Homo sapiens: one gene and its partners. The protein of the gene in region 2 interacts with the protein of the main gene of each other region in a biochemical or structural test. Each region holds a gene or a part of one and is shown on either strand. Other genes may lie near its edges.

Region 1 (7,864 bases), on a different chromosome or scaffold from region 2:
ACAGCTTTCATAATTGAGAGTCCACATACCTGGCGGGCATCCAGGCTGGAGGCCAGGCAAGCTTCTCCCATCCTTAAACATGGCCTGAAACCGTGCAAGAGAAGATGGAAACAGGCACCTGCTCCAGAGACAGCTTTATGGGTGGGCTCATTTGCAGGAGTTGGGGGCGGGGGTGACCCTGTAGGAAAGCAATCTTCTTAAGACTTCCCGTAGCCCAGTCATGAGTTGTCTGCAGACTGATTGCTCCACCTTCCTTCCTTTTTTTTTTTTTTTTTTTTTTTTTTTGAGACAGTCTTGCTCTGTCACCCAGGCTGGAGTGCAGTGGTGTGATCTCGGCTCACTGCAACCGCTGCCTCCCGGGTTCAAGGATTCTCCTCCCTCAGCCTCCTGAGTAGCTGGGACTACAGCATGCACCACTACACCAGGCTAATTTTTGTATTTTTTGTAGAGACGGGATTTCAAGTTGGCCAGGCTGGTCTCAAACTCCTGACCTCAAATGATCTGCCCGCCTTGGCCTCCCAAAGTGCAGGGATTAGAGGCATGAGCCACTGCGCCCGGCCCATCTTCCTTCTAATTATTAAAAAAAAAAAAAAAAAAAAAAAAAAAGGAAGGCAAGCGGTGGGGAACAGGGAAGCTTGGGGTTTTATAAGGAGAATGTGTTGCTGGCTTTTCAGATCTTAAAAACACTTAATCCCTGCAATTTAGATAAATCAGATAGGCATTACCAGGTTAGGGTTAAGGCTCCCAGAATGGCTTTGCAATTGATTACAAACACAGCACTTATTAAGTCTTAACTGAGTAATTTGCAGCTTATTTCACCCCCAGCTAATTAAAATGTAATCAGGATTGTCTAGCAATGTGCATTCTGTCAGCAGTTTTTCTTCCAAAGAGAAATCATGCCAAGGAGACCACAAGAAAAGCCTTTCACGGGAACTGGCTTCATCTAAGCTGGTGCTTTAGCCACTGAAACTGTAAAACAAATAAATTACAGCACTGACAATTCAAGAAAAAGAAAAAAAAAAGGTACTCTTTCTCCCTGGGAATAGGCTGCTCCGTTTTGTTTTGTTTTCTGTTGTTTCAAACAATAGTGTGGCATCTTAGGAGAGTGACTTTCAGGGTAGGACTCGGAGGGCTGGAAACCAGGTGCCTGGGGATCGGCCCTCTCCTGGCTCTGTCCAGGATGTCTGGGTAATTTCACCACAGGAGGTGAGCACTGGGTCTTCCATTCCCTGAAGACGCAGAAGGACTACAGAGCGTGCCCATTTCTCTGACACCCACGAGACGCTGCTTCTACGACTTAGAACAAACTCAACTGCACACTCGCGAACGCGCCAGCTTCACCAGCCGGTTCAAGATCATCCCCGAGGGTAAGGGGAATCACTTCCACATTCCACCCTTATTAATATGGCCTCCTCTGGCAGCTTAATTCCCAGGGCCTCTAGGGGGACCCCCCCCCCCACCCCTTGACCCAGCTCTGGCAGGAGGGGCGCCCAGTTTAAGAGCCAAGGGTTTGGCTTCCAGTTCCCGCCCAGCCAGGGGAACCCCTCCCCCCAGCCCCCATTTCTCCTTTTGGTCCCTCCAGAGTTTCCCTGAAGCGAGAAATTGGGAACTTGGAACAGGTGGGCACCTAGGGATAGAGGCGAGAAGAAGAAGGAGAGAAGGATGAGAGAAGAGAAAAATAAGCGGAGGATTTCAGAGCTCGCACGCTCGACAGGGCTGGTACAGGCAGCAGCTGCACTCGCTCGCGCTGAGTCCGGAACCTGCTCTCGTGCGCCCACCCGCACCCGGAGCCTCGCGCAAGTCCCGCGGGGGTCCGCGCCACAGGGCAGAGTCCCGGCAACCCGCTGGAGCCAAGCGCGCGGCTCCCGGAGCCTCCCACACAAGCGCGCGCGCACACACACATACTCCCCACCCTCAGGCTGAAAGAACCTACGTTCGGGGTTTGGGGGACGGTTCCCCCGGGACTCGTTGAGGAGTATCCGAATACGGCCCCGCCAAATCCCCTGTCCCCGGCACTTCTTCCCTGACGCTCTACGCTAGTCCAGGGCAAGACCTTGAATCTTTGGGGTTCCGAATTGAGGCGCGCACAGCCACTCGCACCCCCAACACGCGCATACACGCACCCTGGAACACGACTTGGCACAAGTACCCTGGCTGGGGCTCCAAGGGTGGGCAGCGAGCTCTGAGCCCTCAGAGAGTGAAAACCATCTTTCAAAAGAGACAAAGTGTCGGCCCGCGGGCACCTGCGGGGCTGGGGCTCGAGGTGAGGTCCCCAGGCGCAGCCGGACGCGCCTCCCAGACTCCCTCCCAGTGCCCCGGAGCGCCTGGGACTTTGCGGGAGTCGCCGCCCGCCCGGAGTCTCGCGCACTCCAATTCCCGGGAAACCGCCACATCCACACACCCACTCCCAGCATCCACGACTCTCCCTCCCCAGGGAAATCGCCTTTGGTTTCCTGCTGGGAAGGAGGGAGTTGGGGCAAGATGTCTCGGGCTTCTTTTTCTTTTCAGGAGCCGGGAAGAGGCTGGAAAGGAGAGTTCCAGCACCCCGACTGTAAGATCCACGCCCAGGGGAAGCCAGGATCAGCCGGCGGCGCTGGCCGAGAACTTTGCGAGCCCAGGCTGGGAGGCGCGCGCCCCGGTGCGCCCACGCCGCGGCCGCAGCCCCAGAAAGAACCCGGGCGGGGGCCTCCCCGTACCTGGAAGTGCTGGAAGAAGGCGGAGATGCGAGTGATCTGCAGGCTCAGGCACCTGGAGGCGCAGCGAGCGCGCTGGACGCTCCCGGCAGACAGCGACTCGTCCAGCCGCCGCGCAGCAGCCGCGCCGGGGCCGGCCGCCAGGCAGCCGCTGGAGGCCGCCAGCCAGAGGCAGAGGGTCAGGACCGCGCCGGGCACCCCGGGCACCATGGCTGCGGGTCGAGGGCGAGGGCGAGGGCGCCGGGCGCGGGCCGAGGCTCCCTGCTCCGCGCCGGGGCTGCACTGCTGAGGACCAGGCAGACGCCGCGACTGAGCCGGAAAGTTCAATCCTTCAACTCCGGCCGGACCCTCCTCGCCGACCTCCCTCCCAGCTCGCCCTCGAGGGGTGGGGTGAGGGGGACAGGAGGCCGCACCATTGGCTGGAAGGCGTGTGAGTGACAGGGGGGCCGGGCGCAGGGCCCATGGGCCGGTCTCGTCAGCTGCGAGCCCGGGCGCTCCGGGGGAGGGCGACGCCGAGCGGCTTTCCACGCCGCGCAGGTCTCGAGGGGCCCAGCTCCCACGCAGGCGCCTCTCCCGTTCGCACCAACCGCTTCCTGCCCCTCCCACCTTCCCCCTCCGTCCAGGTAAACGTCGGTGTGAGCAGGTCCAGGCCTGCCAGGAGGGGTGCTCCCTTCAGCAGGAGGGAAGAGGCCTCAGGACCCCCAGGGGCGTCCCACCTGCCTGGGGATTGACCCCGCGCCCCTAAGTGGCTTGCTTTCTCCCCGACCTCCCCTGGGTCCAGGCTTTTCCCACGCTTTCACATATTCGAATTTCCTTTGCCCAGGTAGTGGAAAGAAGTGAAGAAAACAAATGGCAGTAAGACAGACGGGGAGGGGAGCGTGGACATTTGCCCTACAGTGTCCCGGAGACAAATTCCTCCTTCTCTCCCTCTTGCATTTCTTCCGTCCTTCCCGCATCCCTCCCTCCCTCCCTCCCGCACTGTTTTCCCTGGAGACAGTCTCAGTGCATAGCTAACCACCTTTAGGTCCACACGCCTTGTTTCCTCAGGTGTCTGTTTTTCTAGTAAGCCTTGCACGCCCCAAAGTGAGTGATTTATTCTAAATAGACTTGCGTCTTAATCTCTTTCTTTCCCCACGATTTGCCCGAGCCTCTTGACTCAGGCTTTTTAGCTTTGGAATGGCTGCTCCGTCCTCTCCTGTCGTTTTTGTCTAGTGTTCTCTCAGCACACAAATTCTCCCTCCCCAGCCAGGATCCTGCCACAGAAAGACAGGAGGCATTGATAAGACACAACTTGTAACAAAGCTCTACACTCCCCTGAGCCCCATCAGGAAGTGACAGTCCCCTTGCAGGTAGGAGAGCCCAGAGAAAAAAGACCCAGGCACACTCCTATTCGAATGGACAACAACTGACTGCTGTTCCTTTGCTCTGACATCTCCACCCTCTCCTACCCAATTGCACTTTCACCTTCGAAAACGGGATCTCTATAAGCACCCAGCTAAGCACAGTCAGGGTATCTAGATGCACTCGCTCTACTCAAAGCTACATCAGAAGGCTGGAATCCTCTTTGCACAAAGCCTATATAGTTGTTTTGCAATTTCCCACCCTTTTCCCTATTCTTATACACAGGTTCCACTCTGCAATTTTGAGATCTGCCTGTTAACAAATTGCAATGACAGCCATCTGCAGCTATCCTATTATGAGTGCTTTTCAAATACATCATCTTACATGTGTATTTCTTCACATAGCTTAAATCAGAAAGGCCAGTCAAATTAATTGGCCTTGGTGTGTTTCTCAGCGAATTAGAAAATCAGGGTCATCTTGTTCAAAAGGTTCTATAGGCAAAGCCAGTTTCATGGACATGCAAGCTGTACAATGGTACAGTCGCACTCTTAGAAGGCCTGTTCTGCCATCACCATCCTGAAACTCTTCACAATGACAGTGGCCTGTTAGGAACTGGGCCGCGGCAGGCCAGGGAACATTACTGCCTGAGCTGTGCCTCAGGTGAGAAATCAGTGGCAGCATTAGATTCTGATAGGAGCTTCAGTCCTATAGTGAACTATGCATGCGAGATGTCTAGGTAGCGCACTCCTTATGAGAATCTAATGTCGATCTGAGATGGAGCAGTTTCATCCCCAAGCCATCACTTGCTACCCCCAGGTCCATGGAAAAATTGTCTTCCATGAAACCAGTCCCTGGTGCCAAAAAGGTTGGGGCCACTCTTTACTTGGGCTGGAAACCTAGTAATTTTGGCATAAGCTTACACGACTTCAATGATTTGTTTTAAAATTGCTCAGAATTGCAAATGGAAATATTTTTTAAGTATGTTAAACATAATATTAACGAAGAGTAAAGAAGCTAACTATAATGACCCCAAGCAGGCATGTGTATAAAGCCAAGTGTCAATAAATAATGATGTCTGAATACCGAGATTGTCTTCTAAATGTTGTCACTTTCATTTGTGAATTACTAAAAACATTTCCAAAAGCTGTAGGGGATCCTTTCCTAGTGTTTGTTTGGAGTTGTTTTGTTTTGTTTTGAGACGGAGTCTCACTGTCACCCAGACTGGAGTGCAGTGGTGCAATCTCGGCTCACTGCAACCTCCGCCTCCCGGGTTCACGCCATTCTCCTGCCTCAGCCTCCCGAGTTGCTGGGACTACAGGCGCCCGCCACCACGCCCAACTAATTTTTTGTATTTTTAGTGGAGACGGGGTTTCACCGTGTTAGCCAGGATGGTCTCGATCTCCTGACCTCGTGATCTGCCTGCCTCAGCCTCCCAAAGTGCTGGGATTACAGGCGTGGGCCACCGTGCCTGGCCTGTTTGGAATTTTAAAGTTAAGCAAATATGTGGTCTTGGTGAAGGCAAAGATATTATGTACACCGACATTTTCTTAGGTAACTTTGATTTATAATTTTGCATGTCATATCATGAAATGCATATTCCAGAAAGTGAAATCACAAGGACAAGCATGCTGAGCTTTTAAAAACAGCCTTTGGATGTTCACAGGGGTTGCCGTTTTTTTTTTTTTTTAAAAAGCAGTGTGTGTGCTACTTATATGGGTTCCATAGCATATTCATTTCTATGAATAAATGCGTTTTGTAATAAACCACAAAGGAGAACAGTCAGTTTAACAGAAAACTTGGTTTTAAACATATAGAGCCACCTTATTATAAATATGTTAAAATAATATTTGCAGTTATATTGCTTTCTTCCTTTAGAATAATCACAGACATCCTCTGTGATTACGCAGGCCTTTCTCATATTATTTACTTTAATTGCAGCTTAAAGTAACTTTTAAAAGGAAAGCATTCTAGTAAAGTCAGAATAACAGTCAAATTTCGGTGTTTTTTTGTTTTGTTTTGTTTTCATTCTGCCCATGTATGCCCAACTTATTATGCAGCTCACCTTGCAAACTGAAACATGGAAGTTCTCTGACTTTTGACATTACCAGGTAAGCCACAATCTAAGTTCATGAAAGCCAACCACAGGGGAGGAGAACCCTAAGAGTATGCTGAGGAAATGATGGATAAAGGGGTAGGACCCTCGGGTGCAGCTAGTAAGACGGTACTTAGTATGTCTTTCTCCAAATCTCCTTGACCCCCATGATCCGAATTTGTCTAGAGAAGAATTTAACTTCACATTGACTTTGGTTTGACTTAAATAGACAAACACACATTTAACAAAGAGAGTAGAAAAGCACCTTAATTATCTCTTATTTATATCTACATGAACAAAGATAGACCAAAATGTGTGGTTGTCTTGGTCAGGTTCTGGAGAAATCACACAAAATAAAGCCCTCTTTCACAGTTTCCAAAAATTATTATTTTCCTTGTATTTTAATTATTGGTTTTTCTTTTCTTTCTTTTTTTTTTTCCTGTTTTTCTGCAGAGAATGAGAAACACCTGAAATCTTTACTAAACATAGACTCCAGGGCCCTAAATTGAGAGATTCTGAGTCAGTATATCCGGGGTGGAGGGTTGAAATGTCAGCTTTTAAATAATACCCCAAGTGATTCTATACAAATTCAACCAGGGACTACACTTTGAGGGATAATTGATTTTAAAAGTACATCTGAAGCCCGACTCGGTGGCTCATGCCTATGATCCCAGCACTTTGGGAGGCCAAGGCAGGAGGATCACTTGAGCTCAGGAGTTTGAGACCAGCCCGGGCAACACGGTGAAACCCCATCTCTACAAAAAGTACAAAAATTAGCCAGGAATGGTGGTAGGTGGTAAACATCTGTGGTCCCAGCTACTCAGGAAACCTAGGTGGGAGGACTGCTTGAGCCCAGGAGGTCGAGGCTGCAGTGCACCCAGATCATGCCGTTGAGTTCCAGCCTCAGTGACAGGGCCAGACCCTGTCTCAAAACAAAAAACAAAACAAACAAATAAAAAAAAGTACATAACCATTAAAAATGGTACAAAAAATTTTATTTAAATAGCATCTATGATTTACTGTTGTTTAAAGTATCTTTTTTTAGATGTGTGTTTATATGGATTGGACATACTAGTCTATTTCTTAACAATCAAATGGACATATTTTTCCAGTACATTTAGCTAAGACTCTCTTAGACTCATTGTTTTTTTCAGAAAGCAACTTGCCTTTTTAAAGGGCTTTCAGCTACACTGGATAAGGATAAAGTTTGAAGGTAGCAAATATAATCTTTATCTGACATGCCTCTCTTGGAAAAGCAAAATGAGAACTCACTCAAAACTTGGAGAACAAATACTTAAATATGACAGCATTTAGGAGTCATGAACAAAACGACATCGTCCCTGGTTTTGGTTCTCAGGGGAAAGTAAAGTGAGGGGAAGAAAGTCACAGATGAGGTCTAGTTTCCTTTCTAGTTGCCTCCATTTGATGATGCAAGAGTGTGCATCTTCCCTTAGAAACTGCAGTTCACTTCAGGAAAAGCAACAGTGGCAAGATGAAGGAGTGTGCCCTGCAAGCTCACTGGCCATGACCCATACTTCCACCCTCTCAGGCAATGTTCTCAGGCTTTGCTAGCTCAGTTCCGCTAAAGCTCTTCTTTAACCGCTTTCCTTCTCCTCCAGACTTAATTTCTCTTCTGCACAGCACAGGATACAATTAATAACTGAATGGATAAATGTCAGATTTTCATCTTTCGCAATATGGTTTCAGGCAGGAATGAGGTGTACCTTTATGGTACTGT
Region 2 (7,030 bases):
GCTCCACCAGCAGCTACACTGAAGGCAGCCTCGGGGATGTCCCTCTGTCTTTGGTTTCATGAGTCAGAACTCACAAAATGAAGTTCTGAGAAAAATCATGATTTGAGAGGAACCCATAGTTGAACTATCTGACCCTATGGAAAAAGAATAAACAAGACCACAGACTCCAACCAACAGCCAACAGGGGAGTGTGTGTGTAAAACACTACGCATGTCTCACAAGACAACCAAGGACAAGGGGCTTCTAGAAGGAAGTTCTTACCTCATTGGTTGTGAGAGTGAGAATTCGATCCAAGTCTTCTACCAACTGCTTGAACGTTGGTCTCTGGGAGGGCACTGCATGCCAACAGTCCCTCATCATCATGTACCTGGGAAAAATGGATTTCCTTGAATTAATTTCATATGCACTGGGTACGTGGTTATAGTCAGTTTTAATAGGCAATATGGGGACGTGGTGTAAATTAGGAAAATGCATCAGAACCTTCCAAGCAACTAGATTAGGGGGTCATGAATCACTTTCCCAAAAGCTTCCCTGCCAGTTCCTCCGAAAGGCACTTTGACTTACAAAAACATGTTAGAAAGGCATCGAAGCCATCAAGAAAGACACAGCTATGTGTTTTCCCTGGTAACCCTGGGCCACAGTGACATCTCACAATGGCGTCACACCCTAAAGATGCTTTGGAGGCTGAAGGAAAATGCGTATTTCCATGGGCTGGTCTCCAGTCTTCCCTCCCCTGACACCCTGCCCAGCACCAAAGCAGCTCCACTATTTATCTGCCCGGTGCTTTGGGTCTTAATGATTCTAGTTGACACAGCTTCCTGAGTTAAAAAAAAATTAAATAAAATTTGAAAACTACAACTTCAAGTTTTTGATGAATTAATCTGCCACCACTGGGCTGCACACTAACTTCCTGATTAACTCTTAGATAGGCTTAGCTTCCCAGGTCTTATCTTGATTTTGGGTTTCGACAGATCCTCTACGTTACAAAAGAAAAAAAACAATAGGAATGACAAAGAGCACAATAAATGCCTTTATATAATATGCTATAAAATGTGGCCATTCATCAGACATCCACGGTACACCGAAAAGCACTCACGGGATTACTGATATAAAATCCCCATGAAATGATACACAATAGACCGCAGTTTCTGGGACAATCACTCTTCTTAGTTAATCCTGGAGGGGTTGAGGCAGGAGGCAGAGAGACTCCTTTCAAAGCACTGATTCTATTGCACCAGGCACACGTCACAAACACAACATAACTCCACTTAAAGTGTGAGGCAGGTTTTGCTACAAACCAGTTCATGGTTTTACAGGCAGATCTGGTACAGTAAGGAGGGCGCCTGGACACATGTTTAATTCTCTGCACTAAAACACAAGTGAGACCTAGGTAACCAAACACGAGTTCCTTCGCTCTGAGGAAATGTGGTTGGCGTCAATCTGTAATGGCAATTTTCAATGGTTCGAGAAGTTCTGGAAACACCGATTCTCTACTGGCCACGATGGGGCCAGGCGGGGGCCAGGCACAACCACCAGGGAAAGGCTGTGTTGGTTCCTTAATCCTACACCCTGCAGGGCGGCCCCGCGGCTTTCTAGCTTGTTTCCTGACCCGTGGGTCTTCCTGTCACTCCACGGGAGACCGCAGAAGGTGCAGCACAGTGGCCCAGGAAGACCACTCCTGCTGGCTCTGCAAAGTCAGGAGCCCTCAGCCAGGCAGCCAGACACCCTCTGATCCAAAGCCCTCTCCATACTCAGAATAATGTTCTTTCTCTCAGACAAGTAATGGTTGTCGGTGTCGCTATGTATCCCAGCTCTGGATTGAGCCCAGAGAGCTTCAGCCATTCTTCTTAGAGCATGTTTAGGAAACCAGGGGCCTTCAAAAACGAGATACATCAGGAGAGGTATTACTGGTGTGGCAAGTCCACTGGGGCACCGGCAGGAAAGACAACAGCCCTTACAGTTCGTTGGTGCAGTTGGCTGGCTTATCCATTCTGTGTCCTTCCTTCAGCAGCTTAAAAAGTTCCTCCACGGGAATCCCTGGGTAGGGCGAGCCCCCTAAAGTGAAGATCTCCCACATTAACACCCCGAAGGACCAGCTGCAACAAAAGGAGAAAGCACGGCATTACTAACCCATCCACGTTGCCAAAACCTAAACACGCCCAGCTGAGACATAAACACCTCCTCACTTCTGAAGTTCAAAGACAAATGGGCCCTCCTGCAGTTCCTCCTATGTGCTCTTTCCTGCCCTGCAAGAGCATCCCCGAATGATGATGACACGGGGATGTGCTGATGGAATTTTCCATCAATAGACAAAAAGGCAAACTGCCATCACTCTGGAATAGAGCTGCTTGTCTTAAATGTGGTGTTAGCAATGCAAGGATCTCAGTTTCTCAGTTTCAAAGCCTTTACGCTCCTTTCCAACTCCTTATGTGCCTGACCCAAGGGTTGTGATCTACCAGGATGGGCAGTTGACAGAATAAGGCCAGCAAGCCAACTCCGCAGGATCACAGCTGCCCTGTGTGGCTGGCGGAACATCTGCTGCACAGAGGCTCTGGAACTTACTAAGATCGCAAAGGCAATCAGCACTGGGCTGGGGTTAGGATGAGGAATCACATGCCCCAGATGAGTTGCACACAACAAAACTGAACACATCTCACAGGCCATAATTTATTTACACTTGACTCTTCAGAGATTTGGACTTCCTGTGCCAAGTTCAGGAGGCTCAATCTCTGGGAGGAGCAAGCTGAGAGAGCCAGGTTTAGCTACATCATGGTCGTTCTGGAAACTCAACCTTCTGTACTCGATGGTGGTGTTTCACTCCGCAGTTTTCTACAGAGCAAAAGCAGCAGCACAGGACAGGCAGAACAGCCTCTGTGCCTCAGTTGCTCACAGCAAAAATGGGATAGTCATGTCTTTTTTTTAGGATTGTTGAGAGGACCAACTATGGTAGCACAGAATTAATGCCTACCCAGAACTCCTCCTGCTCATACAAATAAAAAATAGTTCAAGTGATTTTTTTTTCCCCAGACAGAGTCTCGCTCTGTTGCCAGGCTGGAGTGCAGTGGCACAATCTCAGCTCACTGCAACCTCTGACTCCCAGGTTCAAGCGATTCTCCTGCCTCAGCCTCCCAAGTAGTGGAGATTACAGACACGCATAACTACGCCCAGCTAATTTTTGTAGTTTTAGTAGAGACGGGGTTTCACCATGTTGGCCAGGATGGCCTTGATCTCCTGACCTCGTGATCCACCCGCCTTGCCCTCCCAAAGTGCTGGGATTGATTACAGGTATGAGTCACTGCACACAGCCTTCAACTGAATTTTCAAATCTAAAATATCAGTTGGAGCCTGACCCCACTGGTTTTGTCAGTATATCATAATAGAAATATTCTACTGTGTTTCTAGAATGCTATCAAGGATGCCAAAGCAAGATCAGACCTTTTTGTTGAGGGATAAACATAGAGAGTAGACCCTGTGGAGGTCCCCAGCCTGGACCACATCTCACTCAGCTCCACTCTTTAAGGACAAATCTGGGTTAGAGGGAAATATGACAAACTACTCGTAAGTGGGAAAAGCTCCAGGATTACTCCTTTAATGGAGTGAAGAACATGCCAAGAGCTTGGCGAATTAGATAACCGCTTTGTAGTTGCACATCCATGAATATGTTCAAGGGAAGGACTTCCGCTCTGGCAGGGGGAGGTCAGCAGTTCCACCTTCTGTGCTCTTTGAAGCCAGGCAGATTAGTAACAGAGCATTGGTTATCAGCCTACCATAAAATCTGTCCTTTCTAAGGCCAGCTCCTGCACCTTCTACGAATGTGTGAAATGCAGCAGCCACTAAAGAAGGAAGAAAGGTGAAGTACGTACAGTATTTTTGCAGCTCAAGCCCAGGAAAAAGCCAGAGAAAAGAGAGTTACTCACACATCACTCTGATGAGTGTATACTCTATCAAACAGGGCTTCTGGAGCCATCCACTTGACTGGAAGCCGCCCCTGCAAATGTAGAGGAAAATGCAAAAACTAAATATATTTAAAAGAATTTATCTTAGCAGGCTCAATAGGGCTATGCCCTGTTTAAGAGCTGATATTCTCGGTTTTTACTAGTCAGTCAATAGAGCAGAAATCAGTCCCAATGAGGACCATGAACAATGTGTGAGATGCACAGGTCTGGGCCGTTAATAAAATGCCATCTCCTTGGATTCTATCCTTTATCTCCCTAGCACACAGATGCTCCTTGACCAGTTATTAGGCAAAAATTAAACCAGTAACTTCCAAGCTGTAGTTTTTGCTATGAAAGTTCTTGATGAGAACCATAAGAAAATCCTAGCGGTTGCTGATTATTCTGTATATAAGTGTTTCACATTTACTAAAATTGACATAATAGAGGCTAAATTTGCATATTGAGAGTTTGTGAATAGTAAGTCAAAAGAACGGGAATCGGGGCAGGGGAATGGGTCCCCAGCCATCCCACCCAGCTCTCAACATTGACGGCCTTTCTTCCTGGAACATTCTGAGCCTCACCCCCGCCCCTGCCCACTGTGTTACTGCCATCGACTTACATTGGTGGTCTTTTTGTAATAGTCTATATTGTTGATATCTCTGGCGAGTCCAAAGTCTGCTATTTTCATCACATTGTTTTCTGTTACCAAAACATTTCTGGCTGCTAAATCTCGATGAATACACTGAAATCAAGAAAGAAGCAAGAGAAATAACTAATTTCAAAACACCGCCAGAACAAAAAGGAAATATGTTCATTTCTTAAAATGCAGATAGAAAATATAGCTGATGTTAAAAACCAGTTGCGGTATACTATAAGAAATACAGTGTGGCCGGGTGCGGTGGCTCATGCCTGTAATACCAGCACTTTGGGAGGTCAAGGTGGGCGGATCACTTGAGGTCAGTAGTTCGAGACCAGCCTGGCCAACACGGCAAAATCCCATCTCTGCTAAAACTACAAAAATTAGCCGAGCGTGGTGGTGTGCACCTGTAGTCCCAGCTACTCAGGAGGCTGAGGCACAAGAATCACTTGAACCTGGGAGACAGAGGTTGCAGTGAGCTGAGATCACGCCATTGCACTCCAGCCTGGGTGACAGAGTGAGACTCTGTCTCAAAAAAAAAAAAAAAAAAAGAAAGAAAAGAAAAGAAAACGCAGTGTGGCTCTAAGATTAAGAAGACAGGTCAACTGGGATCATCGGAGAGCCTGGATCACGACATGTATTTGTTTTGGAATTATAAATAAATAGAATGATCATTTTGAAGAGCGAAGGTAGACTAAATAACCATATTCTCTTCTACCTCCAGTTGTCCAGCCACACCAGTGTCTTTCTTTCAGCTGCTTATAGATCTGTATCTGATCATCCTAAAATCTTTTCTCTCAACACTTGCTCTCCTGCCCTTTAAACCTGAATTTTCAGAAGCGTTGGTTAAAATCCAACATTGTGTCTTCTTCATTCCTGGTCACTTCTCAAACATTCTAATCTGTGTTCCACTCTTGCCTCTCCTGAAGCTTATGAAGAACCTCTGAATTGTTAGACGCAAATGACGTCCTCCAACTCCTCAGTTGTTCCTCCTCTGTGGCTTCAGATGCTATTGATTTCTTGCTTGTTTTTTAAAATGGTCCCTCTGTTTAGGTTTTCTTGTTTTTGTTTTTTTTGTTTTAACATGGAGTCTTGTCCTTGTCGCCCAGGCTGGAGTGCAATGGTGCGATCTTGGCTCACCGCAACCTCCGCCTCCTGGGTTCAAGCGATTCTCCTGCCTCAGCCTCCCGAGTAGCTGAGACTACAGGTGCCTGCCACCACACCCGGCTAATATTTTGTATTTTTAGTAGAGACGGGGTTTCACCATGTCGGTCAGGCTGGTCTCGAACTCCTGACCTCAGGTGAGCCATCCGCCTCGGCCTCCCAAAGTGCTAGGATTACAGGTGTAAGCCACCACACCCAGCCCCTCTGTTTAGTTTTATCCCGTCCCCTTCCCTCAGCTGCCTCTCTGTCTCTCCCTGCCCTCTTAGAATCTCTGGCTGGCTCTTCTCTTTTTCTGTCCCTTCAAATAGAGGAATTGTTCCATTAAGTTTATGTATTTCCATATATCCTCAAGGCATTAATTCTAAACACATACAAAATATGCGCAAGTTCGTATCTCCATCATGACCTCCCTCCTGAGACCCATGTTCTCATTTTCAACTGTCTATGGGACACTTCCCCACTGACATTCCCTTGACGTCTCAAATTCAAGGTTTCAACTCCTCCAATGCTTTGTCTCTCTTAATCGGAGAGCTATACACCGGTATTCTTTACACATTCCTCCCAAGTCCTGTTGATTTCAACTCCAAAATGCCTTCCCATGTGTCCACACCATGCCTTTCCCACTGCTAATGCCTTAGTCCAGGCCATCTTCACTGTCTGCCCCTCCCCCTGAGACTTCCACACTGCCCGTCTAGCGGGTCTCTACGCTTCCAAACTTAGCCCTGTTGTACCTCCTCCATGTCCCATGACTAAGGTTCCTGAAATGACTAGTCATGTCCTTTCTTGGTCTCTACCATGGCCAATGCCCGTCTATCCACGTTCTCAGTCCAGTTTCTCCTAACACCTGGCCTCAGCCTGAATGTGCCACATACACTGATTCTAAACACTGAAATATTAAATACTTGCTGCAGAACAGCTAATTTATTGTCTTGACACTAACTCTTGGGTCTCAGAAAGATCTAGCTATTACGACTTTTCCTTCTTTTTTTTTTTTTTTTTTTTTTTTTTGAGACGGAGTTTCACTCTTGTTTCCCAGGCTAGAGTGCAGTGGCACGATCTTGGCTCAATGCAACCTCTGCCTCCCAGGTTCAAGTGATTCTCCTGCCCTCAGCCTCCCAAGTAGCTGGGATTGCAGGTGCCCACCACCACATCAGGCTAATTTTGTATTTTTGGTAGAGATAGGGTTTCACCATGTTGGTCAGGCTGGTCTCAAACTCCTGACCTCAAGTGATCCACCCGCCTCGGCCTCCCAAAGTACTGGGATTATAGGCGTGAGCCACCACGCCCGGCCTAT
Region 3 (7,221 bases), on a different chromosome or scaffold from region 2:
AAAATACCTAGAAGAAATGAGAGGTGCCTCACTCCCGCCGCCCCCACGGAGGGGGCGGCTGAGGCCCAGCTGGCCCTGCCCAAAGCCACACCCCGGGCTCAGGGCTGGGGAGGGTAGCACACACCCCACAGGTCGGGGAGTGAGTGGAAGTTCAGGAAGGGAGAAGTCACCGGACAGGAGGTAGAGAAGGGAACATCAGGGAAGGCTTCTCTTCATTCAAACTTGGGAGGGTAACAATGAAATTAACATTCCCACCTGCTGACGCTGCCTGCACCCTGGCTTTCATTCGAGCCTCACAACACCTTGCCAGCTGCCATCATCATCCGACAGACAAGCAAGTGGGGACCACTATGGCTGGGTGACTGTCAGGCCCCTGCACATGTGCTTGAGCGGGAAATCAAGCCCTGGCGGCAGCCATGGGAGTCTGAGCTCTGGGACTGCACGGTCCCCAATGCCTGTGCCTGCCAGCGGGAAAGCTGGGCCCTGATGAGCCAGGCTGATAATATAAACCACTGGCAATAACACAGCCAGGGTGCCTGCCACCCAGATCATGCTGGCAATAGACCTGGCGGGAGATCATTGTACTCGCCGGGGGACCTGGAAGGGCAGGAAGCCAGTTTAGACCCTGGAGCCCGCAGAGGGAAGCTGGACGGGTCTCACCCACTCCCCAGGGATAAGAAAGTTTAAATCTCCCCTCCCGCCTTTCCTTCTGGATACACGAGTGCTGTGGTGGGGGCTGGGGGCGGGGGACTACATCAAAGGACGGGTTGGGGTCATTGTCTCCCAATAGAGGCTGCGAGGGGATTGGGGCGACTGCCTGCACCCTCTCCAAGGCATGCCTCTCAGGAGCGCCCTCCTGGCACGCGGTCCGAGCACAGACGCGGTCACCACCGGGCTTTTGCTCCAGCCCAGGGGTGCTGTGGTGCAGGCTGCGAGCCTCCCGCCTTCCCAGTGCGCAGGCTGGGCGGCATCGGCGGTGCCTGACCGGGGACCAGCGAAGCACGAGTCTCGACGCAGGACAGGGGCGGCTGCGGGCGCGCGCCCTCCCCTCCCCGTGAGCAGCCTACACCAAGAAGTTTGGATGCTGTGCGACTCCGAGGGGGAGCCTGGCTTTGGAGAGAACCGGAGTGTCTTAGTGAGACGAATTCCGCGCACTCGGACCCCCTGGTGACAGCTGGTGCCCACCGTGCGGCTCCGGAGGCGCATGTCCCCAGGACGCCCTCTCAGGGCTGCGGCTTTCCTGGAGGAAGCCGCGGTTTGCTGAGGCCGCCGCCGCCACCTTCAAGCGGCGGAACCGCTTCCTGCGCCCGGGGCCGGAGCCGAGCGCCGCGCGGAGCACCCGAGGACAGCTGTGGTCTTGACTGCCCTCCCACGCTCCCCACGCGGTCCTCCCGGGCCCTGAGCTCCGCTATCCTGCTCCTCAAAGGGCTCGGCGCGGGCCTCAGGTCCCTGTGACCAGAGGAGCCCAACCGTGTAGTCCGGCAGACTCCCGCGGTGAGCGCAGCCCGGGCCGCGGGTCCTGCGTGCGGGGGCCGGAGTGTGTGTGTCTGCACCCCCAGGCCCGGGCGGACACCGTTCCGCGCTCGTGATCCGCACGTCCCGACGGCGAGGGCCTCCACCCTCCTGTCGCTGTGCGGCCAGGGCGGAGGCGGGGGAGGTGCAGATTCCAGCGCGGGGAATAACTGTCGGTGGCGGCCGCGGCCAGGGAACCGAGCTCCGCAGGGCAAGAGTCCTCCGCGCAGAGGCAGCAGCGGGGGCGGCCACCTGGGCAGCCGCGAGCGGGGAGGGCGGAGGGGACGGCGGGGCGTCCAGGGGTCGGCAGGAGGAGGAGAAGTCGTCAAAATAATAAAGAGGATGATAAATGCCTTGTCCGGCTCCTTTTCTCCGACACATTCAAAGGGCTTAAACTTGTCAGAGCTGCCCAAAGCAGCAGAGCCTGGAGCCCCGGGGTCGCCTAGCTCGCGTCCCCTCAGACCAGCGGGCCGGACCGGGGACGGACTCTGACAGCCGCCGGCGCCCTCTTCGGACGTGAACGCCCATGCCCCCGAGTTCTGCTCGAACCCCAGCGCGCGCTCTTCTCCCGGACGTGTAGGTTGAGGAGGGCACCCTGGCATTCCCCTTCTGGCAGCGGGAGGCAGACGGTCTTTTCCCGGACACCCCGGGCGCACCATGCCTTCTCCCGGGCCAGACCCCTCCCCGGCGCCGCCTCCCCCGCGGGGCCCCGCAGCGCGCCTTCTCCCGGGCCCGACCCCTCCCGGCGCCGCTTCCCCCGGGGCCCCGCAGCGTCCGGCACTCACTGTAGGCGCTGTTCTCCAGGCTGCCGTTGACGCGGCCGCTCGGGTGCAGCTGGAGGTGGTACTTCGTGGCGCAGTAGAGCTTGCGGCGCCGGGGCGCCCCGCCAAGGTGCTCGTAGACGCCGCCACGGCCGCCCGCATCGCGCCGCAACCGCGCCCCAGGGCCCGCTGCGGGCCAGCCGGGCTCCAGCAGGCTGAGCAGTAGCAGCCAGATTAGGCCCATCGTGGCATCGCGCCCGCCCCGCGGCGGCGGCGGCTGCAGGCGAGCGCGGCGCCCATGGAAGGGGCGGCAGCCGGACAGCTGCGAGGTGCTCGGAGCGGGATCCCGCGCCTGGAGATGCTGACTCCGGCTTCGCGGGAAAGGTGGGGGAAGAAGGGGGAAGGGTGGGCGAGAGAGAGAAAGAGAGGGAGAGTGGGAGAGGGAGAGGGAGAGAGGGAACGCGAGTCCCTTTAATTTCCACCCAGGAGCAATGAAATTTCCGTTGCTGCGCAAAGCGCTGAAAGAAAGGACGGTTCGCCAACAAAAGGCCGACGTGGTCCCCAGGCGGAGGCGCGGGAGGGGCGGGAGGCCGGCGGGTGGGGAGCCCCGCGGGGCTCGGGGTTCGGGCCGGGCGCCGTCTGCATACACTCGCCGCCAGCGCACCGCCGTCGAGCCGCGGCTCCGCTCCGCAGCGCGCCCCACGCCCCCGAAAGCCCTCCTGGCTCTGAAAGGTCCCCTACCCGCCCCTCCCCCGCCCCCTCCCCCAGACCAATTATGCCTCCGAAAATTATAGACCGAGGCCTTGAGGAGGCCGCCCCAGGCCCTGTCACCCCCTCCCGCTCCCCATCAATCCCCCTGCACAATGGGGCCGCCGCCGATGACTGATGTCCGTGAAAACAACTTGCGGGGAAGTCGAGCTGACAAACGCCCATTAAAGGCGGCGCATAATGAAGGGGACCGCGGAGGGCGGCGGCAGGGAGGCTCCGGGGCGCGGGCACGCGTGGGGAGCTCCGGGTTTGTGTCTGCGCCCGGCGCTTCCTGCAGGAGCAGTGGCGCTGTCCTCAGCCTTGCAAGGCGCGGGGCAGGCCGGGTCTGGAGATGCTATCTCCTTTTGCGCACACCAACTGGGCACCCGGAGTGGTGGGGTTAGCTCTCGTCTGGCAGGCCTCGGAGGATCCCGTCCCAGTGACGGTCCAGAGAGGGGCCTGGGGAGGCGGGAGGAGGGACGCGAGAGCCAGAGAAGTGGGCGCCGACAGAGAGCCCTAGAGAGAAAGAGATGCAGATAGAGACAGACAGAAACGGAGGAGGAAAGGACGGGAAAGACATGGAAAATGTGAATGACAGAGATCGCCAAAAAGAGGAGGCAGGGGAGATGGAAAGAAGACAGAGCCGCGGAGAACACCCAGAGAAAAGCACAGGGAGTCTGGTAGCCACAGCGGGTGGGTGATGACAAGAGGAACCCGGTAGAAGCTGGGAATGGGTGTGGGGGAGTCCTGGCCTGGAGGATCTGAATCAGTGCAGATGCCCAGGTGGTCCCCTGGACTGTGTGGGGGTCAAGGTGTATCTCAGGGGGCCCAGTGAAGAGGGGCTTCAAAAAGTATCGGGAAAAGCCATGTCCCCACCCATTTCTCTTGCTTCCTGGTCCTCTGTCCCCCAGGGTCCTGGGGCCAGCAGGAAGCAGGGGCCAGCACAGGGGATTTGCTTCTCTCAACCCTGCCCCAGAGGAGGGCACGCTGTGGAGTCCAGGGGTCTAGGCCACAGCTTTGGCTCCAAGTTGACCAGGGGCTCTGGGGTGAGTTGGGTGGGCTGACATTCCCCAGCCTGCCATCTGCATCAGGGTTTGGGGTCAGGCAAGTGTGCAGGGCACCATGAGCTGTGGCAGTGAGCACACACCCCTGGGACGTGTCCAGCTCCCATGGCCCAATACACACAGGGCAGTGTGTCCTCTGTGAGCCCACTCCAGCGTGCACAGGGTCCAGGTGGCCATCCTGAAGGAGGGCGCCCCCAAGCCATCCCCGAGCACCTCAGTCTTAGTCAGGGTCTCCTAGCCGCTGCCCCAGGGCCAGCTTGTGAGAGTCCTTGAACAGGCCAGAGGCCAGCCACTGAACTACTGGAGCCTCAGACTCTTGATGGAGACTGTGTTACAGGGGTCAGAGGCTGGTGACAGGAAAGCCCCAAAGGACAGCAGCAAGAGGAGAGCTTGTCCAGTGCAGCCCTGTGCAGGCCTGGGCTGGGATGTGTGGTCACCTGGGCTCCCTAAGAGGCATGGAAGAGGCACAGGAAGGAGGTCGCTGCTCTAAATGCCTTAGCTCTGCTACCTCCTGACACCTGGCCAAGAAGAGAGGAGATGTAGTGGCGGGGGTGGGGGGTGCACAAGAAATTCAGAGAGGGGTGCAGTCAGGGGGCACAGTCTGACAGAGAGAGGAGAGAGGACACAATAATGTTTTAAGAGAGAGAGAGCAAGAGCAGCCTGCTGGGGCCAGGGGACTTCCGATGCCCTTTCCTGTCAAGGCTCCGGCTGCCTCCTTGGCAGGACCCCCTCTGGAGGACTGGGAGGAGCCAGAAAAATCTGACCAAGGCAATCTGGGTGTCCATGCCCCTCCTGCTCTACACCTGGGGCCCCCAGCAGTTCCCAGGGAAACTCCCGGGCTCTGGTCTCCAGCCCTGCCCACTGCCAGGTTGCCGTGTGCCCGAGAACCCAAGATGAGGGCAGGGGCTGCTGCCCTGAAGCAGGAGTCCAAAGGTGACCCCTCTATAGGAGGGAAGCTCAGGGGATGGGCAAGAGGTTTCCAGCTCCTAGGGAGAACCTGACACACCAGCCACTCAGTGCATACTCCTAAAATGAATGAATGGTTCGGCCACTTCCTGCCACGAGGCCTTGGCTGTGTAGTGTCGCTCCTGAGATACTGGTTTCTCATGTGTGTGATGCCCCAAAGGTAGGGCCGGAAACTGAGTGGCATTACCTCTGCAAAGCCTCTGGCCTCCCATCAGCGCAGGGCATGCTCCAGCCGCAGGGGACCACAGTTTATGACGCAAACCCTGCTGCCTTTGAGAGTGAAAGAGGGCGCAATTTGCAGTTATACCAGGACAGCCGGTGCCCTGCCTGAGGTCCCTCCTGGTGGCCCTGGCTCACTGTCTGCTGTTCTGGTAAGCATGACTTTTCCGAGGCAGCCAAGCTCTCTGGGCCAAGTTTTCCTCTCTCCTCCGGTCGCTGGCGACAGCCTTCAGCCCGGTCCTTCCATCTGCGGTCCACCCTGCAGTCACGGGAAGTGGTCTGGAGCCCAAAGCTGCCTTCTCCAGCTGCCCCAGCCCCTCTGACAAATGCCGTAGTGTTGGGGGAACCCTGGGGATGCTCACCCACCCGCGTGGACCTCTAGTTCACTTCCCACATCTTCTGGGCTGCGCCTCCAGGCCCTTGCTCACCCACCTATTGAGTTCTTCCTCCTCATCTAAACCTGTTGATCTTTCCAGCCCAGGAAGCCCCCCAGACCCCCACCCTGGGACTCTGGGACCCTCAGGCCCAGCCAAGGGAGGGGAACCTGATTCCTCCACATCTGCCCGGCAGGGGCAGGGGGCTGGGCCACAAAGTCTTGTGTGTGGGGTGGGGCAGAGGCACCCACATAATGGCAACCTCGCCCCTCTCCCTCCCATTCGGAGCCAGGCGGGGGGTGCACCATGCGCTAATAGCGACCCTGTTAATTGCTTCCAAATGGTCAACTGTAGTCATTTGACTAATTGGTCTCTTCCAGAGCCCAGGCTGGACACCCCAGGCCCAGCAGAAGTGCTCCTACCAGCATCCCCCGAACCTCTGCACTGGGACCCTGTCCCCCAGAGCACCCCCAGCCCTATCTGGTACCTGAGTCTGCCCCTAGCCTCTTCCCCTGGAGAGAGAGCTGGGGTGGAGAGAGGGCAGAGAACAGGGTCCTATGGTGTGGCCGCAGGTGGCTGGCCAGGGACTGTCAGATGTGATGCTGACTCCCAGCCCCAAACTCACTCTAATTATGTTGCCTGCCCCCCCATCCTCTTACCCCATCCTTGTCCCCAAGAGCAGTGGGAGAGAGACCCAGCCTGCCTGTGTCACTGGGAGACCATGGGTCCCTGAAATTCTGGGAGCAGCCCTGATCAGCCCCACATTACAGATGAGAAAGGGAGGCTCAGAGAGGTGAAGTGACTTGCCCGGGGTCACACAGCCAGGAGATGAGGCGAGAAGACTGGAATGCCCCTTCTGGCTACGGGACCCAGGACCCGAGCAGTGGGGAGAGGGAAACCATTGCCCCTCTAAGTCCCTCTGGGGCAAAGCTGGCACTTTGCTTCTGGCAAAGTTAGGAGCCCCCGCAGGCAGGGGTGGGATGGAAGGCACATCTCCCCGCAGTGGGGCCTGCGCAGCACTTTGAGGCTCATCCACGGTGTGGCGTGTGCCAGTGTGTCCTCCCCTTTTCTGCCCTAGTGGCATTCCGTCGTGTGCACAGACCACATGCTGTTTATTTTTCATCCATGGATGGATGTTCGCCTTATTTCCTGGCTACTTGGCTATTTTGGAGCCCCAAGCTGAGACATAAAGGAGGATTCTCTCTGGGTAGAGGAGAGGAGGGAGCAGAGGGCCCCCTGGCCCAGGGACAGACACCTCCAGCTGCTCTTTTTCTTCCCCACAACACCGAGGGCAGCCTGTGCCTGTCAGTGCCTGGCATCGGGCTCCAGGCAGAGCAGCCAACAGGGCTTGTAGATGCCATCTTCTCCCTGTGTCCTCACAGGTTCGTCCCTCTGTGTGTGCCTGTGTCCTCATTACCTCTTCTTATAAGGACCCCAGTCAGATTGGACTGGGGCCATTCCACAGACCTCGCTTTACTTTAATCGCCTTTGAAAGACCCTAGCTCCAATTGCAGCCACATTCTGAGGTCCTAGTGAGTAGGGTTCCAACATACAAATCTTGGGGGACACAGTTCCGCC
Region 4 (7,000 bases), on a different chromosome or scaffold from region 2:
CATATTTGAGAACTATTGGTATAGAAGGTTGGTTAACTTGCCACTATTCTGATTGAGCACACAGTAAATATATATTTAGCACCCACTCTCTGAGATTCTTTGCAACCCTATGAGCTATAGGCCAGCGGTCCCCAACCTTTTTGGCAGCAGAGACTGGTTTCGTGGAAGACAATTTTTTACACGAAAGGGAATGAGGAGATGGTTTGTAGATGAAACTGTTCCACCCCAGATTATCAGGTATTAGTTAGATTCTCATATGGAGTGTGCAACCTAGATCCCTTCCTTGCATTGTTCACAGTAGGGTTCGCACTCCTGTGAGAATCTAATGCTGCCACTGATCTGATAAGAGGCAGTGCTCAGGCAGTAATGCTAGTGATGGAGAGTGGCTAAATACAGTTGAAACCTCGCTCTCGCTTGCCTATGGCTTGCCTCCCGCTGTGTGGCCCAGTTCCAATATTGGTCCATGGGACATTACAGTTCCCATAATGTTTTGAGGCTTCACTTCATTTAACTTTGTTTCATTTTTAAAGAGAGGTAAAACCACATTTAGAGCCATTTAGACTCACACTATGGTATGGCCACATAATCCCAGAGGTATTAGTGAAAATGTGATAACAACCCCAAGGAGCTCCCTAAGTCCTTCTGTGCTAGGATATAATAGATGAACTTAGGACACTGACAACAATTCTTGGGAGAGAGAGGTTTCATTTAGAGAGGTTAGTATTTGTGTCTTACATTGTGCTAACTATGATATGTTTCAGCACCTTGATTAAAACTATAAAACTATATAGCATTATAATCAATTTCAAGTTAAAATGTTTAGAGAAAAATAGATGTGACTGATTCTGAATTAATGAGACTTTCCACGTTTCACAATAATTTTTTTTTGGAAAGTACATTCCTCACCCAGAAAAGCACCACTACCACTCAATGAAGCAGAACCTTTAGTTTTAGCTAGTGGCCACCTCAAAGTGCCATTGGGGGAGGTGGGGAGAAATGTGGCTCAAGCACTTGAGCTCTTTCTCTCTCCAAGCCTGTTTTTATGCATGCACTTTCTCTCCCTGGAATGTTCCTTCTCAACTTCCCAAATCCCCCCTATTAAAACCCTGCTCTTGAAAAGTCACCTCAAACACCAGCTGTCTTCTTCAGGATGGCTTCACTATTTAAAGTAATGTATAACATATTTTATCTCTCATACCACACTTAATATATTTTCTTTCTGGTTTTTTTTTTTTTTTGTATTGTCATTACTTATTTGGGTCTTTATTTTATTGAGCTTTAAAACTCCTTGAGGCAAGGACCACATCTTGTTTGCCTTTGTAACCTTCAGAATGAGAGCTAACACCTACCCTGCACACTGGTGCTTAATACACATTAGCTGAATTAATTTACTCAGTCTATAGAATTCCATTGTATATTTATGTTCTATTTATCTAGGAGTGGATAGAAGGATTTTGCACTTATTTTTCACATCTAGTTTTCCTTGTCTATATCCATTCTATTAAATACAAGTTTTATTTGCCATATACTTTCTCCTTTTGTGTTTATGGAAAAATATTTAGTGAGAAACTTACCCTCCAGACCAATAGCTTTTTCATTCTAATAGCACCAAAACAGAAGAAGCCTTTGTCCAACATGATTGCTAGGGGGACAATAGGTCAGATGCTCCTCTTCTGGAGAAGAATGAGAAGCAGCAGCTGGGAAAGATGCTTGTGAATGGCCACCTTCTCAGATTAACTATTTAGTCACTCATCAAAACATTACCAGCCCAAACAATTATATATATGAGTATTAAAAGAAAAAAATGCATTTACACGAAAATTGTGACTTCTAAGTTATTTCCACTCAGAGATTATCAAGTCACAAAATTTTCTCCATTACTAAGGTGATGATGCATCATGAGGGAACATTCGCAAAGTAATATGAACTGATTTTTGTCATAATCGCTTTTGTAATGTTGACTATCAAACTTTATTTTTTAAGATTTTAAATATAATCTAAAATAAGCTTTATAGATTGCTACTATTTACTGAAGAAATTTGCTAAATATTACTTTATTTCTAATGTATTCTTTAAACAATTTTATATTTGTAGACAAAATCCTTCCTAGTTGCCAAAATTCTTAGAATCTGCACAAGATGTTTACTAAACTGAGTCTCATTATCTCCCAACTTCACTTTTCCCAGCTTCCTGACTTGTTCCTTGTACTCCAGTTGGTAAATCAAACCTCTTATGATATTTGAAAACACCATACTGTTTTACCTTAATAATTTGCTCTTGCCTTCCCACCCTTCCCAGCCTTCCCCTGGACACTTCTTAACCTTCATGACTCAGTTCAGGTCTCATCTCCAACAATAATTTGATCGTGGAACCCCAGCCAGTATGACCTGCCTTTACCTTTGCCCCATAGTCCCCTTGTCATCATCTTAAGTCATCACTTACTGCCATGTAACATGTTTTATTGTAATTATCTGTGTTTGTCTTTTATTCCCAATAGTACATAGACTTATCAATAGAAAAGCCATTACGTATTTGACTTTATATTTTCATTTTCTAAAAGCGTACCCTTCTCCTCCTAGGTCTTCCTAAGTGATTGAACTAAATTGTCCAAAGACCCTTAAATAGATTCACAATACTACCTGGGCTATTCATGTTTTAAGGGACATAAAAACTAATATAGTTACAACTTAATATAAATAATAGAATTTCACTACAAGAATATGCCTATAAATTTACAAAATATCTGTTTTACATGAATGGGAAATATAATTCATGTGTCCTTTCATTAATAATATAATTTTCAGGTGTTTCTTTGAGTTAAAAAAAAAAAAACCTTTTTTTATAGCTTTTAATGTTAAGGTAATTGTAGAGTCATAAACTTGTAAGAAACACGGGGAGATCCAGTATGCCCTTAACTCACTTTCCTCCAGGAGGCTCTTTTAACTGGCATTTAGTTTTGATTCAAAATATACACATATAGAACTATAAGCTACTGATCCAACAATCCTCAAACAAAATTCTGGAGCTCCTTTCCAAAAATAATTTGATAGGCAAACTTGATCATCCTCACCAAAGAACAGAAAAACTGGAGTGATTCCTTACAAAAAGTAAAGAAGTCCTCTAGGCTTCAGTCCTTCAGAACTCCCCTTTCACATTCACAGATGTTTATAATAGGTGCAGTCATTGTCCATTACTCACAAGATGATCAAATTATAACTTACCTGACCATACGCTGCGTCCCAAAATTATTTTCAAAATTCGAAAGGATATTAAATCACCTATGTCTTCCCTCTATTTTGAAACAATAACTAAATAATAATATAAAAATAATAGCTAAACCTTTTTAAGCTTGCCTAAACTAGTTGCAAAGTGGAAAAAAAATGGTTGATTGAGTCTTTGAATATTGTGCTCCCATTTCAGGTAAAGCAGAAAGAAACAAAGGGGTATCTAAGCTAAATATAATCTACAATACCACTTGCAGTTCATCCTCAGAAATAACGGGTCAAAAATTCAGTTGTATCTTATACTATTACTATAGCTCAGTCTGTTAGTATAGTTTAATCCCAGGACGTTGCATGCACCTTCACAAATATTGGTTTATTTTTTGCTTAAAATCATCCTTCATTCCTCTTTGTTCTATTAATTTTCAGTTTCAAAAGTATACATAAGAGAATATCTTGCAGTTTACTGACAGTACTTTCTTGTCTTTTGGCCAGACAATGTAAGCAGCTGCCTAATCTTTTGCCCCTGAATTCTACCTCCTGCTCTGCTCTGTATCTTCTGCTTATGACATAAATAAAGTATGTTAGATTTTGTTCTCTAAGATTCAGACGTTATCCTCTATGGCATGCCATCATCCTTGGGAGGAACAGCACATTAAGTCATTAAAGAAAATTATCTTGATGAGTCATTTTGTCAGATGGTTTGCAACAGGGTTCCCTTGTAGGAATGGGAAAGAGGAGGAAGATGTGATGGAGAGGCAAAGTAGTCAGAGATGGGGAGCAATAGAGTCTAAAAGTCAGAGGCTTAAGTGTTAACATCCATTATTACCGACCTTTATCACCTTACCACCTGTGTGTGTGTGAGTTAAATAACCTAAGTATCTTCCGTTTTTATATTTGTAATCGAGACTAACAACAGTATCCTTAGAGGGCTATTGTGTGAATTAAGAAAATATTTTTCAGAATATGCAAATAAATGTGCGTGTGTGTGTGTGTGTGTGTGTACCTTAGGGAAACTACCAGCATAAGGGAAATGGATGTAAAAAAACACAAATAATGTCTCCTTCATCCTTCACAATCTTTCCTTGGTTTTGGCTTGCAAATAGAGTGAGATATATCTCTTTTGATGAAAAGGAGTGCTGTGTTAGGTCAGAGACTTCCTACAGATACATGGACAGAAGGGTCTCTGACATGTAGTCTTGGCAAAGTCTCTGGTTATGTCAACTTGGCAACAGGGGAAACTCAAGCATTTCTATTGGCCTCCATAAGGCTAACCTGTGAAGGAATAGGAAAGAAGGTATTCATCTCTCGAGAATAAGCTAAGCCACTCTATCTCTATGGGAAGAGTGAAAACATATAATCTGTAGACTGCATTGGGGATGGTGTTTCTCATGATACATGACAAATGATAATATGCTCAACTTTCAGATTTCATGTATTAAGCCAATGGGAATTTGTATGTATTGTTCAGGATTTACATAGCCCATTGAAGAATTTCCAAAATCTAGCACTGTTGGAGAAAAACTACCCTCTGATGATAATTAAGAAGATACTAAGCTCCAGGCAAATTCTAATAATTTTATAGGTACTATCTCATTTAATATTCACAACAAAATTATGAGGGAGGTACTATTATGTTGCCCATTTTGCAAATAAAATTGAGTCATGGGACACTTCAGTGACTTCTCCTATGGTAATTCACTAATAAATGTAGAGCCAGGAGTTGAACCCAGACATTTTGGCTCCAGAGGCCACATGCTAATCACGATGCTACTTCTCTACCCTGAACAAACTGCTGAGAGTTATGAAATAAGTAGTTTTAGTTCCCTAGGTCTTCTTAAACTAAAATGGGTGGGCACTTTTAGTAGACGATAAACTGACTTCCCTATTGTGATCTACAAACTTTTCCGAGAAAATTATCTTTAGATGCAGCAATCGAAACTTGTGTATAAGGGGAAAAGGAGCTCTTGTCTACCTCTTACTACTTCCCTCGATTTTCCATTTTTCCTAGGAAAAAAAAAAACCTTAAAAATCCATGTTTATGGATTTTCCCCCAACACAGAGCAGTAATTCTGCTATTTCAGGGACAGTGCAGATGTTGGGATTAGTCTCCCTGTATCTCAGAATGTCAACACATTTGCCAAAAATGAATCTATCAGTTAAATGTAGCCAAGAGATTTAGATTATCTATATCCTAGCAAGAAGAAATAGTTTATCACTGTTTTTAGAGATTGAGGTAATCTGGCATATTATTGACATGTGCTACAGATTTAATTTAATACCATAGTACAGATATGGGCTCTGATAAGTTATTTTGAAATCTAGGCTAAGATGAGTAGAGTTGTTTCAATATTTATAGGGTTGAAAATGCAGAGTTAGCAAAGGAAGCATTTTAATTAAAACAATATTTTCTATGTATGCTCAGAGTAAAATGAAGGGGAATTCTTTTAAAGCCTTATTACTTTTTTCTATATATTTGCTGGAAATACTTGCCGGGTTTTAAGACACATTGAAAAAGATTTGCTTGTTTGCTTGTTTGTTTACCAATGTTTTGTGCCTTTTGTTTTTAGAACCACACAAAAAACAACTCAATAGTTTCTTTTGATTTTACTTTTCTTCCAAATATATTTAGGATTCTTTATTTAGCCTTTTAAAATTGTATGTTTTAGGCATCCTGGAGATAACATCAGTAGAAATCGGAGTTGTTGCCGTCAAAGCCATTAACAGCAACTATTACTTAGCCATGAACAAGAAGGGGAAACTCTATGGCTCAGTAAGTATTCTGCTTTTGTTTTCAAATCCACTCCAGTAAACCATTACCATAGTTTTGGAAAGTTTCCTCCAGACACCGAATAGCTTTGTTATCCTTCTATTGCTAGTAAATAGAGCCACAGTGGGTTAGTCACCACTGTTTCAAGGGCTGGCAAAGCAGCTCTTCCAATTCTGTAATCTCCTCTGTTGTTCACCCATTAGTCTACCACACAGGCTGCTGCTGGCATTTGTCTGTGAATGTTCTAAACTGCTAACCAAGTCAGGCTCTCACGGAAGCATCCGGTCAGATTGGCATGGAAAATGAAGACAACTTGGAGAAAAAACACTAAAAACAAAGATCTTGAATTGAGTAGAAACCCATGTATTATATATGCGTTACGGCTGAAGATGAAACAAGGGCTCAGATGTTTTGCATTTTGTTAAAATCTGAAATGGGGAAATGTGTCAAGAAACACCATTTTGCTTGTTGTTCAATCAACTCTAGAATTTTATTTACCTAGACAATAACCTTTAATTCAAATTATGCCTCAAAATCATATATATATATGTGGGAAATATTCTTTGCAATAGGGTCCTTGTGGAGCAGGTATCCCTGCAGTGCTTTGGGCACATCCATGCCTATATTCCATACCAGGTGTTAAGTATTTGGAATACCACTTCTGCAATCTTGGATCAAACTCTTTTAAACCAATTTCTTAGAAATTTAAGATCTCACTTAAAATGCCAAATAGTTGTTTTATAATTGCAATTGTAATAATAATTAAATTACAAGCAGTGAGACAATTTATCCTGCTCAAGTCCTTAGAAAAAAATGCATCAATCAATCATATCAACATCTACTATATGCCAGATATTGTTTGACATATCAAAGATGCATAAGAAAGAAGTATAGAAATGGGCCTTGACTTCAAATAATTTATAATATATTTAGGGGAAATGTTAACAAATATGAAATAATTACAGCATGATTGGTTGTTACATGTATGAAAGGATCAGCTATAGCAAAG

What was found.
Region 1: the proteins of FGFR2 (region 2) and ANOS1 form a complex in vitro, tested with the Homo sapiens proteins (one study listed by BioGRID and IntAct).
Region 3: the proteins of FGFR2 (region 2) and FGF3 interact in a test that uses a peptide from one of them, tested with the Homo sapiens proteins (one study listed by BioGRID).
Region 4: the proteins of FGFR2 (region 2) and FGF10 are reported together in a solved structure, tested with the Homo sapiens proteins (3 studies listed by BioGRID and IntAct, with this or other methods).

What each region holds. Positions count from the first base shown.
Region 1 is NC_000023.11:8,729,134-8,736,997, forward strand, and holds the start of ANOS1 (anosmin-1 isoform 1 precursor), read right to left. Parts: upstream 3,005-7,864; 5' UTR 2,904-3,004; coding exon 2,697-2,903; intron 1-2,696. UniProt on the Homo sapiens protein: Has a dual branch-promoting and guidance activity, which may play an important role in the patterning of mitral and tufted cell collaterals to the olfactory cortex. Chemoattractant for fetal olfactory epithelial cells.
Region 2 is NC_000010.11:121,483,437-121,490,466, forward strand, and holds part of FGFR2 (fibroblast growth factor receptor 2 isoform 1 precursor), read right to left. Parts: intron 4,678-7,030; coding exon 4,555-4,677; intron 3,989-4,554; coding exon 3,918-3,988; intron 2,097-3,917; coding exon 1,959-2,096; intron 368-1,958; coding exon 262-367; intron 1-261. UniProt on the Homo sapiens protein: Tyrosine-protein kinase that acts as a cell-surface receptor for fibroblast growth factors and plays an essential role in the regulation of cell proliferation, differentiation, migration and apoptosis, and in the regulation of embryonic development.
Region 3 is NC_000011.10:69,816,417-69,823,637, forward strand, and holds the start of FGF3 (fibroblast growth factor 3 precursor), read right to left. Parts: upstream 3,001-7,221; 5' UTR 2,518-3,000; coding exon 2,298-2,517; exon of another isoform or gene 2,292-2,297; intron 8-2,291; coding exon 1-7. UniProt on the Homo sapiens protein: Plays an important role in the regulation of embryonic development, cell proliferation, and cell differentiation. Required for normal ear development.
Region 4 is NC_000005.10:44,309,421-44,316,420, reverse strand, and holds part of FGF10 (fibroblast growth factor 10 precursor), read left to right. Parts: intron 1-5,890; coding exon 5,891-5,994; intron 5,995-7,000. UniProt on the Homo sapiens protein: Plays an important role in the regulation of embryonic development, cell proliferation and cell differentiation. Required for normal branching morphogenesis. May play a role in wound healing.